Regions from separate parts of the Homo sapiens genome. Here region 1 is linked to region 2. The links come from fine-mapping of genetic effects on gene expression. Tissue or cell type: blood mononuclear cells. Region 2 holds a variant in brackets; the other region holds the start of a gene. All regions are shown on one strand. Distances are between the middles of the regions.

Region 1 (7,765 bases), 90 kb after region 2:
TCCCAGCATTTTGGGAGGCCAAGGTGGGTGGATGGCCTGAGCTCAGGAGTTCAAGACCACCCTGGGCAACATGGTGAAACCCTGTCTCTACTAAAATACAAAAAATTAGCCAGGCATGGTGGCACACACCTGTAGTCCCCGCTACTCGGGAGGCTGAGGCACAAGAATCGCTGGAGCCTGGGAGGCAGAGGTTGCAGTGAGACGAGATCACGCCACTGCACTACAACTTGAGCTACAGAGTGAGACTCTGTCTCAAAAAATAAATAAATAAATAAATAAATAAATAAATAAAATAAAAATAAAACAATAAAACAATATATATATATTTTTTAAATTCCATAACTGGCATATGGAAGATACATAGTGTTAACTGAAGAATCCCAAGGTTTATAAATTTGGAGAGGGGAGCTTTACTTTTTATAAAGGGTTGCAGCCTGCAGGCTGGTGATCCTGACAGGCTGGGAAGTGTAGACTCTGGCAGAGACTGAAAGCAGGTATTTAGAGGGAGGAAAAAGTGGAACACAAATTTATGCCAAATGAGTTGGCTAAGAATACACACTTAAGTTACAGGAGCTTTGATTATTCACAAAGCGGGGGGCAGCACATGCATGCATAGTGAGCAAACATGCATGTTACATATGTCCTATGTTCTCTTTGGGGTGGAGATTTAACATTTAAATGCATTACAATTAGGTGAAGCAAAGGACATGAAGACACTCAGTGCACAGCCTCTGAAAACCAGCCAGAACCAGTCTGTGGTTGGTAGTCTCTTACTAGGATGTTACTGAAATCAGTCTCTTGTCCAATCAAAGAAATAGTTATGGTTTGTGGAACAGGGGTTGGGGGGATACAGTTAGTCAGCATCTAGTGGTCAGTGAGCTACAATTGATTCAATATTGCTTATCTCCAGGCCAGTGTCTATTTAGCTACCAGAGAAAAAGAAAAACCTTGTGGCAGTTAGAAGATGGTTTACTCTTCAAGTGTAGGGATGTGTGACTTAACCCTTGCCTGACACAGCCTTAGGTCTTGTTTATAATTTGGCATCTTATTGCCTCAAAGAGTCTGTTCCATCGGTCATATGATCACTATTGTAACAATAGTAAATGGCACTTTCTTTTCCCACTCCCTTTGACTATTTACCCATAGCATCTTCCACACCTAGTTCAAAATTCATCTAGGATACTTCAAATCAATCTTTCCACCTTAATCAGATAGCTCTGTTTTGTGTCACATTTAAAGTAAATTATTTACTTTAAGTACTGCTAAGAACACACTCTATGTAAACTATTATACTGGATGCCCAAGGAGATAAGTAGAAGATGGTTCTCTGGCTTTGAGGTGTTTGGTTGAGACAGCAATATACATTAAAAGTTGAACAGGAATGCAAAGCAGCATGGGACAAATTATACAGAAAGTGTGATAGTTTTGAGATTATAGTGGCTGATCTGTTCATTATTTTGTACTCAGGAACTAAAAAATTACTAAGAGTTGTAAGAGCTCTGGTTTTATAGCTGAGATAATAAGCCCAGTGACACAAGTGGTCTAGGATCCCAGCTATGAAGTGGCAAGAGGTTTCCTGTCTCCTGGTCCTATGCTGCTTGTGCGTGGGTTTCTAACTATTCACGAGTCTTTTAATCAGTTAATGTTTGCTCTCTCTAAGTAGACAGTTTAGTATAGCCAGGTAAGAACTGGGCTTTGAAACTAAAATGTTTGGGTTTGAATCCTGGCTTTGCTATTTACTGTGTGACTTTGGGCAAGTCACTAATCTCTTTGCTTTACTTACCCACCTATAAAATGAGTATAATAATGGTACTTTACTTCATAGGGTGGTTGTGAGCATTATATACTTAATATATGTAAAGCATGAAAAACTGTGGATTTGTCATTATAATTGCTATTAGTCTGTGAGGGAATGGAGGGCAAGGAATCTAGTCATGTTTTTTGTTTTTTAAACCTCTTCCCTCAGCTTCTGATCAGAGCATTCACGTGGGTGTTAAATAAATGCATGTTAGCTACCTTAAGCATATTGGGAGTTTTTGTATCACTGAAGTAAGACTTGAGATTTGTGTAAGCCTGGACTAGTCTGGTACCAGAGAAGTCTAGAAAGGTAAAAACTGAGATAGCATCAGATTGATTTTAGGACCTAGCACAGCTTGTTTAAAAAAGTCAGTCAAGACAAATAAGTGCTGAGAGAAATGGGGGTCAATGAGTCTAATTCCAAATGAGCTTTCTCATCTATTTTAAGATCTGCTTCAAACTTCCTCAGACAAAAATCTGGCCTTTTAAGGAAAGTGCAGAGAACATGCCTTCGTGGGCTTAGTTTGAGGGAATAGGGGCTGCATTTCACCCTGGAGGTGGCTACATGAATTCGTGAACTGAGGTGACAACACTGACTCTCTCCGGAAGAAAAGATGCTATCTCTTCACGGAGTTTAATTACAATGGCACTACTTGAAACAAGCTGCAGCAGCAGCAACAACAAACGCTACTGTTAACCCAGTCACAGCTCAGCTCAATATTCAGATTAGAGAAAGCAAGAACCATTTTTTTCCCTGGGACACCCTTCTCTACTCAAATACCCGCTGAAAAAAAAATTCTGAGACAAGCACTAGGGAGTGGGGAAAGCGGGCAGAGATGAACAATAACCCATATTCAGGGGTTAGAAAAATAATATTAATAAATCATGGTAGGTTTTTTTGTTTGTTTTTGGCAGCAACTTGCCACTCTTCAGCATCATCCATCAGGAAATCTAGGTCGGAAAAGTGTACCAACTGACCTTCCAAATTTTCTGCATTTGGCAGATGCAAATCACACAGTCCATCCCCGCCCTCAGCACTTGGACGGTATCAGGGAAACGTAAGTATCAATGGAAGAATCTTGAAGTGAAAAATAAATAACTGGTCAGGTTAGGGTTAGTGTTCTTGTGTGCAAGGGAGCTAGTGAAGTTTAGGCTTTGATGCGCACCCACAGCGTCAGCAAAGGAGGAGGAATTAAGGGACAGCATGGGCCGAAAAGCCCCCGAGTTTTGAGGTCAAGCCAACGGGCTGGGTCTCCGGTATCCTAGGATCTGCCCTGCACACAACCTTTGGCAGTTTCTCGGTTTGAATCTCGCCTGTACATTTCCAGACGAGACACTGTCTTACTGAGCGTTCTCACAGCGCCTAGCTCAGAGCTGACCGCAGAGCCGGCTCTCAATAACATCGAGACGCAAAAGCAGCTTTTGAGGTTAGGGGCGGAAGGGCATCGGTTTTACTTATTTCAAGGCTGGCGCTCGGTGCAGCCGGATCCAACTGCCAGCACAATGTTCCCGATCACTTCTCGCTTCCATTTCAGCCCAGGAGACGTCGGGAAACCCACAGGACCCGCTAGGGGCTAAGCGGTTAAGCCGCGTCCTTCAGGTGTCAGTCTCGATCCGTTCGGAAACCACAACCTCCAGAATCCCTTGTGCCAGGAGGCCAGGCCGCAAATAAGATGGCTCCAGAAGGGTGGAACATACAGCGGGGGGGGGGGGGGGGGAACTTAGTTGTTGGCAGTTTCTTCACGGGATGTGTTTAAATTGCCGAGTCCCCACATACGCGCCACCCCACAAATCTCCTTCGAGGCCGTGGAGGCCACACGGCTGCCGCCTCGCCCTCTCCTCCAGGAGTATGCTGGGATTTGTAGTCCAGCAGCCGGACTGTGCCGAGCTACCTTTCCCAGCTTGCCCTGCGGCTCGGGTGATATCAACAGTCTTTTCCAGAACTCTGTCTGCACTGAGACCCTCTTCCCCCAGTCCTCTTCTCGCGGTCGACTCCTTCCCATCCGTGGCGACAGAACGGCGGTTGCAGGAGAGGCCCCGGTCCCTCGCCGCGCCGCCCCGAGGGGCACTTCCGGCGGCGGTTCACTTCCTGGTTGGGTGGATGGAGCCGGGCGGGAGCGCGCGCGGGGGAGGGGCGGCGGGTCAGTCTCCGCCCGGCGCTCCCGGGATCAGCTGGCGGGCGGGCGGGAGCCGAGCGCGGCCCCGGCTCTCGCTGCAGCGCCGCCTCTTCTCTGCGTCGCAGGCCGGCCCGGCGGCCGTGACAATGTCGCGGGGCTGGTAGCAGGGCGCCGGCCGCCGAGCCGTCTCAAGTGGGTGCTGCCAGGATGCCGCCTCGAGGGGCGGCGGGGAGACCCGGGAGGAGCGGGAGGCAGTGCCCGGGAGGGTCGGCGCTGCCGGAGCAGCTCGGATCCCTCCTTTCTCCGAGCTCCCGGCTCGGGGGTCCCGGGTTCTGGGGCCGGGGTCGCGTTTTCAGCCCCACGGTTTTTCTCGCCGGGAAAATACATGAAGCGTTTCCCCAGGATGATGGCTTTTGCTCCCCCTAGGACTCAGCGGTTGAATTTTTAAGCGTGTTACTGATTCATCCTCTCTTTCTTCCTCTGTCATCACAGGTTTAAACTTACACGAATCGCTTTCTGGAGGAGGAGGGGACCCGCTGCGCGATTGACACGCATATTCCTATAGGCATCCTCCCTCAGCCCCCACCCCCACGGCCGGATTCGGGTGGCTCCTCTCCGAGGTGAAATCTGAGAAGAAATCCTTGGATCTCTTTTCTTAAAAAAAAAAAAAAAAAAAAAAAATCTAGAAACCATCGGTATTTTGCTTTGCTGCTCCCTATTCGCAAGATGAAGAAGTTTTTCGACTCCCGGCGAGAGCAGGGCGGCTCTGGCCTGGGCTCCGGCTCCAGCGGAGGAGGGGGCAGCACCTCGGGCCTGGGCAGTGGCTACATCGGAAGAGTCTTCGGCATCGGGCGACAGCAGGTCACAGTGGACGAGGTGTTGGCGGAAGGTACGGTGGGGCTCAATGCGCCGTAAATTAAAATCTTGTGCTGATGCGGCAATACTGTGGTTTCTAGTTGTTGCATGTATGAATGGGCTTTGACCAGTTGACCCTCCCTTCCCCCTTCACTTGCCCTGTGAGTCATTGTCCTTGAGAGATTTAAAATTGAGATTTGAAAGTGACTGGGCTTATGGGGGTGTGGGGAGGTTGCCGAAATTGTTTACGTTAGTGGCCTTTTATTTTTATTTTTTTAATATTGAGAAGCCAAATTTTGAGGATCACACAAGAAAACGTATGTGTGAAAGTGTAAAGCTTTATGCCAAAGGCAGGGTGATGGGCTTGTCATCCTCCTAAAACTTAAAATCTTGATGTGAAGGCTGAAGGGTGGGGGGACTTTTAAGAAGAGAGGGGTTTCTCCTTCTCCTACCCAACTTTCCCACTTCCATGAGCAGGCATTGGAAGGAAGAGAGGATTTTCGGAGAACGTGAACGTGTTTTTCCAAGGGCCAAGGCTCTTGGTGGATTTCACTAGTAGATTTGTTTCCTGACCCAACTGTAATCAGGTCCCCAGGTTATAGCAAAGATAACAGAAATTACATAAAACAAATGTGGTTATTTTGAACTCAGTCTAGTAGGCCCCTCTTCCTTCTCGCTTTAGGTTTTGTTTTTTGTTTTTTTAATCAAAAGAAAAATTACTTGAGAGTGGCTCTGATTTTGTTTTTTCGCTATCAGAGAGGATGTTATTTAGATCTGCTGCATAAATTCCCTCTGTGTTTCATCTGTGTGTCTATACTCACGTAGATATACATCTTGATTCCCCCAGGCTTTCGGGAAATCTTTGCATGTCTCTTTTGGTAACCTTAACCTCGACCTTCATAATTATGCCAGACTCATACTTTTCACAGCCCTTCGCCTGCCTAGTGTGCTTTTATTTTTAATAAAAGCAGCAATTTCCTTGGCATGAAGCAATTCAGACTGATTGGATGGGGCCAACCTGCTGTAGGTTGTGTTATAGACCGAGAGGGGTTGGAAGAAGGGAGAGGTCTCTCTTACTGCAACATGGTGATGGTAGGGAACAGTTTTATTAGCAAGGGAAGAGAGAAAGCTAAGAGGCCTCTTTAAAAAGGGGCCTTTTGCAAGCTAAAGTTGAAGCAAGGGTCCTGACCTGGGCCTGGGAAATGCTTACCATGGTGGATGTTGCGGGCTGGTGGGTGGGTTTGGAAGAGGAAGAAGCTGTGTTTGGCTCTCAGCTTGTGTAAGCACTGGATTCAGCAGGGCCCAGTTTTCTGGGAATAGAGTTGAAGTCTGTACTTTAAAAACATGATTTTTAAAAAAGATCTCTGACAGTTAATGTCCATGTGAAATTATTGCTCTTCCAATCTCAGTACTGTTCTAGCTGCGCTTTATCTGGGGCCAGAGTCACTGTCCCCTTGGATCTTTCCCGTGGACTTTGGTGCAGGCTAGGAGATGCTTCTGTGCCCGCTGCCAGATCCGCACCCTTGAGTCTGATCTGTCTCTTTCATCCCTGTGCCAAAGCCCTTAACTGCAGTGGGGTGGAGAAACAGTGAAAAGGAGAGTGTGTCAGAGAGAAATCAGGAGAAACGAAGGGCCACAGAACACTTTCCTCCCCTCTGAATGGCCTCTGCTGACCTTATAGCCCACGAGCGTTTTGTTCAGCTAGGATGTTGTCTCATCACGGATGATGCTGCCCTAAGCGGTGCATGTTCTCCAAGTGTGAGAGAAGTGATAGGGAAAAGAAAAGGCAAAATTGGTCTTTGTTACCTAGGCTGCCTTCCTCTTCTCTGGGATTCATCTTTGAGAACTGCGCATCACGTATTGTGATATTTTTACACAGAATTTAGGACTTGTAGCTCTGCATTTATTCATTCAACAGTTTATGGAGTTGCCTGTGAAGTGCCAGGTGCTGTGCTAGGCTCTGGGGGTATACTGTTAAACTAGATGCTAGCTTTTACCAACTGCTTTAAGAGATGGAAAATAGCCAGTTATAGTGGATTGGTAAATGCCATCATAGAGATAAACTTAGGGTGCAGTGGCCCCCAGTTTTAGGGAGCCCAGGATTTCTGAAGGAAGTGACTGAAGAGTGAGTAGGAGTTAGTGTGGTGGCACCATGGGCAAAGACAGAGTAGCGAGAGAGAATGTCACGTAAAACTGGGTCTGGCTATGCGCCCTTTTTGTGTTCTTTGGCTTAAGTTGAGTTTGAATTTGTGGCTCTTAGAAGTATGTAGATATGTAGGAGCCAGTATACAAAGTATTTATGTAGCACCTACCAAGTCCAAAGACCCTATGAAGTTCTGAGATGGATGAGGGAGGTCTATAGTGTGATTGACATCTGCCTTTAAGGATCTGCCAATGAATTTGGGAAGATGAGGCATACATTCACACATACAGTAGCATGGTTACCAGCACTGTCTGTAGAGTCAGACAGATCTAGGTTCAAATTCTGGATCTGTTCTTTACTAGCTGTGGAACTGTAGGCAAGACATTCCAAACCACTCTTGAATCTCTGTTTCCCTGTGGCAGTGGTTCTCAAAGTGGGGCATACTTATCACCTGCGAGCTTGTTGGAAATGGAGATTCTCAGGCCTCACTCTGTAGGCTGTGGGTGTGGGGCTTAATAAGTTCCTGGAGAGATTCTGACGCAAGGTCAAGTTTGAGAACCACTGCTTAATGGGCTGGTCATGAAGATTAAATGAGGCAATATATATAATTAACATTTTCAGGTGTTCAATAAATGGTAGCCATTACTTACCAGCAACGTTATACATCATATGTATATATGTGGGGGGGGAGAGAGAGAGAGAGAGAGAGAGAGAGTGTGTGTGTGTGTGTGTGTGTGTGTGTGTGTGTGTGTGTTAAAGGGGAGTGGGAGCAATGTGAAAGCTAGTTGAGCTGCAGCAATCTGAAGCAATTCCTTTCCCCCATTGTTAGGGGACAGAGCCAGATGTTCTTTGC
Region 2 (7,765 bases):
TAGTTAGATTTGATTTTCAGTTAAACACCAATTAATGTTTTACTAAAATATAAAATACTTATGTACTATAAGTATGTCCAAATATTGCATGAGACATACTTATACTAAAAATTATTCATTGTTTATCTAAAATTCAAATTTAACCAGATGTCCTGTCTTTTTTTTCTTTCTTTTTGTTGCTAAATCTGGCACACTTAAGTAAGAGCAGGCAGCTGAAGGTCATCACAATGTAGGGGAAGGATCTGACATTAAAAACAGAACCCAAAACATGCTAACAGGAAAAAAGAGAAAAGGAAGAAAAAGAGTATAGGGGGAGAAGAAAACTGAGAAATCTATTATTGATCTTCTCTGAGAAAGATCAAATAAAACAGAAAAGCTGGGTGCGATGACATGAGCCTGTAGTCCCTGCTGCTTGGTAGGCTGAGGCAGGAGGACAACTTGAGCCCAGGAGTTTGAGGCTATGACCACACCTGTGAACAGCCACTGCACTCTAGCCTGGGTGACATAGCGAGACACTATCTCAATAAGTAAATAAATAAATACCCTAAAAAAGGAACACTCATAGAACCAAACACAGCTCTTTTAAATTAAAAATCTGATAGCAAAAATAAAAAACTGAGTAGAATGTTAAGAAGATAAAGTTAGAAAATATCCTAGAATGCATAGACAGAAGGCAAAGAGAAGGGAAAGAAATAAGAAAGGATAAGAAGATTAGAAAGCCAGCCTTGGACATCTGGGAAACAGGGGAAGAAATGAATTAAATAATTCAATTATATATTTTGAGAACTAAAGAGCATGAATTTCCACATTGAAAGTGCTCACTGAGCATAGTGCAATGGACAAAACCAGAACCACACCAAGGCAACATTGTGATAAAACTTTAGAAGACTGAGGACATAGGGAAGATCTTACAAGTACCCAGGAGGAAATAAGGTTTCACATAAAGGATCCAGAATCGGAATGGCATCTGATTTCTCAGTAGCAACACATGAAACTGAAAGACAATGGAATAATGTCTTTAAAATGCTGAGAGTAGGCTGGGTGCAGTGGCTCACACCTGTAATCCCAGCACTCTGAGAGGCCAAGGTGAGTGGATCACTTGAGGACAGGAGTTCAAGACCAGCCTGGCCAACTTGTTGAAATCCCATCTCTACTAAAAAATACAAAAATTAGCCAAGCGTGGTGGTGGTCACCTGTAATCCCAGATACTCAGGAGGCTGAAGCATGAGAATCACTTGAACCTGGGAACTGGAGGTTTCAGTGAGCCAAGATGGCACCACTGCACTCCAACCTGAGTGATAGAGCGAGACTCTGTATCTAAATAAATTAAATAAATAAGTAAATAAAATGCTGAGAGAAAATTATTTCTAACATAGATTCTCATACACATACAAATTAGCAGTCAAATGTGGGGGTAAATATATTCCAGACACGTACAATTTCAAAATGTTTATCTCCCATGTACCTTTTCTTAAGAAGTTTTCAGATGGTGAAAGCTTTTCCACCTAAACAAGGACATAAACCAAGAAACTTTTTTCTAAAAAAAGGGAATAGCAGAATGAACAACTGAGAATTGAATGATGGGGAAGGGTAATTAGTTAATACTATAGTTACAGACTTCTAATTTTTCTTAACTATAGAGTACAGCTAACATTTACTTACTGTGTGCACTTACTATGTGCCAGTCAGTATTCTAGGTGCTTTAAATATATGATATTAATGATTTAATCCTCACACGGTTCGATGAGTTAGATACTCTCATAGAGTAGGTGTCAAGAAGTGTTACTATTAATGGTATACAATCATTTATTAATTCTACAAGTTGCATTAAACTTCCTGCTGCAGATTGTATTTTTCAGAATTGCAGCAACAATATGTTCAGTCCCATGTGCTCTTCCAAAAACCCTGCCCCCCACCTCAATCAAGAGGTGGCATCTAAGTCCTTTCCCCTTGAACCCAGGTAGGCTTCTTAGATGGGTTTCTGTGACTGCACAACCAAAGTAATGCTATGTGACTTTCAAAACTGGGTCTTAAAAGGAGACCTGGTCATCTAGCTCTAGGCATCGGTTAGCTCTCTTGCTCAGAACATGTGCCTTTGGAGTATATAAGTACAGCAGCCCTGAAACCACCATGTTGCAGAGATCATGTAAATAGAACCCATGAAAATAAAGAGTCAAGGAGCTTTGGCTGTTTCATGCCCCAGCAGTTTGAGTTTTCCCTGTCTCAGTGCCAGACATGTGACTAGGAAGCCTTCAAGGCCACTCCAGTATGATCGCTGTCTCATGGTAGCCAGTTGACACATTCTGAGTGGGAACTAACTAGCTGAGCCCAGTCAATCACCAGAATCATGAGAGATAATAATAAATGATTGTGATTGTTTCACACCCCTGAATTTTGAGTGTTATTTTTTGGAGCGATAGACAAGCAGAACACTGCCAGGTAAAATTGGGTTTTAGCCTAGACTTCTGAATCTCCTCTCTAAATACTCACTGAAATGGCCCAAGACATGCAAATAGGGGATTTTTTTTTTCCCAGAGTGGCAAGTCTCCCCTCTGATACTGCAGTTGAGTCCAAAGCTCATACTGCTTACTGCACAGCAGCCAACAAGTTGAGAGACAAGGTGTTGGGGCAAGGAAGATGACTTTGTTTCAGGGAGCCAGTAAACCAAGACGATGGTGGACTAGTGTTCTAAAGCACCCTAAGTCGATAGATTTTTAGGCTCCTTTTATGTTGGGGGAAAGGGGAACAGGGAAGGAGTTAAAGTCCAGAGGTGACTGGTGACCACAGACATCTGGGCATCAGCAGGGGTCCAAGGAGGTTGCACATCTTCTTTGTTCATAGTTAACTGCTTGTCAGATCCACCCTTTTCCTATAAATCTTTAAGATAGCATTGTTACTTGTGTATATACTTCCTTACCTCCTCAGAGGTCTGTTTCAAAAGACAGATAGTCATTAGTTCTACAGTTAAAATATAAAATAAATTCTTTCCATGATTAGCTTGGCCTACAGGCAGGAATGAGCAAAAGCAGTTAGCTTGTGAGGTTAGAAGCAAGATGGAGTCAGCTATGTTAGATTTCTTTCACTGTTACAATTCCCCAGTATCAAAGGTTCATTCCATAATCTTGTGGAGTTGGGGACAACAGGATGTTGTCTCTCATTTGGCTACTTTCAGTGGAACTGGGCAGGGTTGACAAGGGGTGACTGTGGAATGACACCTAGAAGGAACAAGTGAATGGGATTGTTTGAGATGTTGCTGAATACCCACTCATCAGTGAAGTTTGCTGGAATAAAACTGTGGGTACACTATACTCAAGTTGACACTACTAGAGGGCCCCTCCTATCTCAAAAACCGGAGAAACAAAGTGCTGGGATTACAGGTTTAAGCCACTGCACCCGGCTGGAAGATGACTTTTTTGGGGGGAACAAGCAAACTGAGAAAATGGTGGCCTAGTGTCCTAAAGAATCATCTTAAGTTCATGGATTTTTTTGGCTCCTTTTATGTTAGGGGAAGGGAGAACAGAGAGGGGTTAAGGTCTAGAGGTGACTGGTGACCACAGACATCTGGGCATCAGCAGGGCTCCAAGGAGGTTGCAAAACTTCTTTGTTCATGGTCAAATGCTTGTCAGGTCCACGTTATTGCTATAAATCGTCAAGACAGCATTGTTTAAATGTTGTGTGCATACTTCCTTATCTCCTCAGGGGTCTATTTCAAAACAGAGGTAATCATTAGTTCTACAGTTAAACTATAATCTAAATTCTTTCCATGATTAGCTTAGTCTACATGCAGGAATGCACGAAGGCAGTTAGCTTGTGAGGTCAGAAGCAAGATGGAGTCAGCTATGTTCGATTTCTCTCACTGTTACAATATTGGCAATGGTAGTCTCAGGAGGATGGCCAGGCCACGTCCAGTCTGGCTGCTGGCCAGTGAGGAGGAGAGACTAGAGGCCAGATAACCTTTGGCTCCTTGGGACAGTGGGTTAGCAAAGCCTTGAGAAGAAACTTTGCCAGGGTGACTTTCCTTGCCAGATGGCTTCCTCCACCATCCTTTCAAGCTGCTGGAAGGTACCCAACCCTGCAGCCTAGGATAATGAGAGGAAGATTCTAAGAGCATCAAAATAGACAGGCAGGGAGCCAAAAAGAATTAGCTCATTGATTCAGTAAGGCCAGATTAAAAAAAAAAAATAGCTCATCCCATATTGGAACAAATGCAAAGCATGGATAGAGTTTTCAACCTTCAAGGATGAGTAAGCATAAAAAATTATATAGAACTGTAAAAAAAATTCGGGAACATAAAAAACATAACACCTAAGAGGTCAAAGAAGAAAGTATTTTTTAAGTTTTACAGTATGAAGCAAAAGTAAATTTTAAACAGCTTCTGCTTTGTCTTTCATAGATTAAAACAGGCCAAAAATGGACAAATCTGAATATT[A/G]TTATTCATAAGGCAGAATTAATATTTATGAACTGGACTAGAGTTCACAGAAAACACCTTATTTTCTTTTCCTGTCTTTTCTTTTTTTTTTTTTTCTAAGACAGGGTTTCACTCTGTCACCCAGGCTGGAGTGCAGTGGTGCAATCACTGCTCACTGAAGTCTCAACTTCCTGTGCTTAAGTGATCCTCCTGGCTCAGCCTCCTGAGCTGGGCTCCTCAGCTGGGACCACAGGCATGCCCACCATGCCCACCTAATTTTTTCTATTTTTTGTAGATGGGGTCTCACTATATTGCCCAGATTGGTCTCAAACTCCTGGGCTCAGGTGATCCTCCAGCCTCAGTCTCCCAAAGTGTTGGGATTACAGGTGTGAGCCACCAGGCCCAGCCAAATTGCAGATTTTTACCAACAGTTTTCTGGTGTTAGATCTAAGATGACAGCTGTTATAGCAGATTAATAGCTTAACACCAATAATTCTTCATGTTTTATTTTCCAGTAAATCTTAAGACTAATTCAGATGTTAATTTTCATTAAGTAAATAAACATTTTGCCTCAATATCCCTAAAGATGAAAATTTACTCTATCTACAAGAACAAGCGTTTTTAATAATGCTTCATTTTACTATTAAAGGCTATTTTTTTCAGTTGTCTACTAAACATTTACAAAAACTGACAACATATTTATTTGCAAAGAAAACCTCACTAAATTCCAAAATAAAAATAGGAGTTTGAATCTCAACTTTACCATTTCCTAACTGGTGACCTTAAGAAAGTCACAGATCATGGTCTCCAAGGAAAAGGTGGCACCCACAGCTTGCTCCACATCCAACCTGGGCCTCTAAATAATGTATGGCATAGCAAGGTAACTGATAAGCAACATGACTTCGATCAGCACCGCTTCTTGACTAAGGTCCGCTTTTGGCACTGTAGTAATCTTTTTTTTTTCTTTTTTTGAGACAGAGTTTTGCTCTTATTGCCCAGGCTGGAGTGCAATGGTGCGATCTCAGCTCACTGCAACCTCCGCCTCCTGGGTTCATGTGATTCTCCTACCTCAGCCTCCAGAGTAGCTGGGATTACAGGCATGCACCACCACGCCCAACTAATTTTTTATTTTTAGTAGAGACGGGGCTTCTCCATGTTGGTCAGGCTGGCCTCGAACTCCCGACCTCAGGTGATCCGCCTGCCTTGGCCTCCCAAAGTGCTGGGATTACAGGCGTGAGCCACCACGCCCAGCCAACACTGTAATACTCTTTACTCGATGAACTCTACTGCTGTTTGGGAAGAGGTATTGCCCAGTTTATATCACTTCTAGATATCAGATATTAGATATTCTCAGAACTTCTCGTTTACCTGATCTACAGACACAGCGAGCGACACCCACAACCCCACTCCCATCAAGGGTAAAATCTAATATTCTACAGAACACATAACTAAGGGCTGGGCGCGGTGGCTCACGCCTGTAATCCCAGCACTTTGGGAGGCCGAGGCGGCCGGATCACGAGGTCAGGAGATTGAGACCATCCTGGCTAACACGGTGAAACCCCATCTTTACTAAAAATACAAAAAATTAGCCGGGCGTGGTGGCGGGCGCCTGTAGTCCCAGCTACTCAGGAGGCTGAGGCAGGAGAATGGCATGAACCCAGGAGGAGTTTGCAGTGAGTCGAGATCGTGCCACTGCACTCCAGCCTGGGCGACAGAGCCAGACTCCATCTCAAAAAAAAAAAAAAAAAAGAAAGAAAAGAAAATGTAACTAAGAAATAGCATCAGCATTTGGTATTTCTGTTTTTTCCTGCCCCAAAGGAGCGACACCCTTTCTTTCCTTCCCCAAAACCTGTTTTCCTTGCCATGAACTGCTGCAGCTCAACAAAAAGAGAAACCTTATTTGACCACAGGGAGGTTCATCATTTGCATCATATCAGTATAAAGTTCAGCATAGTTTGACAGTCAAATAATGCATTTGCAGATCATTGCTTCCAAGGAAGTGTCCTACCCCACCCTTTACTCAGATGCATGACAGCTGACAAGGAAGCCTTTTTTAATTCAATTATTGGCTTTTTAAAAAACATCTGCTTTTTGAGGTTGTGCCCTTCTGCTGCTGAGCCGCAGCTCATATTCAAGCGTCATCAAACCAAGCCATCATTATGAAAATAAGCTCTGATCATAGGGGTCAACATGGTCTCATTTGTTTTCACAAATACTCTAGGTGGATGTGGATTGCGCTGAAGTGACTGCAGTTAAGTTGGCTATTTTCAAAAACAAAGCAGCTGCAAATAGTCCAGGGCGAGAGTCAGCATCATCACTCAGCTCTTTCATACAGGTTTTTGTAGTAGAGCTTTCAGCTTGAGCTAAGTTTGTGGCCACTGCTAAGTTCGAGCAAGTCTGGGTAGGTCTGGCAGATGGATAGAAAAGTCCACTAGAGGTCTGAGAAGCCTCATGCAAGAAGGGAAGGGAGCCAGTTGTGCTGAAGTTAATTAACAAAGACCCAGTCATTGCAGGAGACTCCAGACCCCAAGAATAAAACTAGGACCCAGCCTCCAGGAAATAAGTCTCAAACATTGAGTGGGATGGAACCAGGCCCTATGTTGTTACCTTCTGCATCCTGGTAGACACAGGGAGGCCTACTGGTGACTACAACAAACTCATGAATTTTAATATAAATAGTGACATCGTGGCTTTTGGCTTCTTGAGGCCAGCACTCCTCAGGGCCAGCACTTCAAACCCATCGACCTAAAAGGCAGGTTTGGGGAACTGTTGGTGGAGACATAATTTTGCCTTACCCAGCAGCACTTCCCTGTCATCACTACTGGATGGAGAAAGCGAATATATGACATTAGTAGTGCCTCCTCCCGTTCCTACATTGGCAGTAGGCCTTGCTAATGGGTCATTATCAAGCAATCCCTAAGCAGCAGAGATTACTGCAGCTGTTAGGTCAATTTACCAATCTTCCATAGATTCAACCAGTAAGGAGAAAACACACCCAAACAGATTTAGACAGTTTCTTACAGTGCAGCTGGCAGCATGAGCAGCATGTTTACGTAGGTTCTCTTTTACCTCCAAGTCGCATAGGGGCCATGTGGAGGCAGGCCCAGGTGGATACTGAGCAGACAGTGGGTCTATGTCACAGCTGAAGAACATTGAACCTCAGAAACCCCCATCTTAGAAGGAGACTGCTCACAAATTTGCTTATCCTCCTGGATGTTGTTGTTGTTAAGACTGAATTTCATTCTTGTCGCCCAGGCTGGAGTGCAATGGTACAATCTCGGCTCACTGTAACCTCTGCCTCCCAGGTTCAAGCAATTCTCCTGCCTCAACCTCCCAAATAGCTGGGATTATAGGCAT

The links. PIP is the estimated chance that this variant, and not a neighbour inherited with it, causes the effect.
Region 1: it holds the start of AAK1, and the variant in region 2 is fine-mapped to the expression of AAK1 in blood mononuclear cells (TOPMed, PIP above 0.99).

What each region holds. Positions count from the first base shown.
Region 1 is chr2:69,639,916-69,647,680 of GRCh38, reverse strand. It overlaps AAK1 (AP2 associated kinase 1), which reads left to right and starts at 3,942. Exons shown (of 22, transcript NM_014911.5): 1 at 3,942-4,106; 2 at 4,407-4,803. The coding sequence starts at 4,641. It also overlaps a transcript of ANXA4 not described here. RefSeq lists enhancers at 2,156-2,758, 3,514-3,783 and a silencer at 3,864-4,193.
Region 2 is chr2:69,730,373-69,738,137 of GRCh38, reverse strand. It overlaps a transcript of ANXA4 not described here. Among named protein-coding and RNA genes, the nearest start is that of ANXA4, 7.9 kb to the left of the region's middle. The variant A/G (reference allele first, on the strand shown) is at 4,430.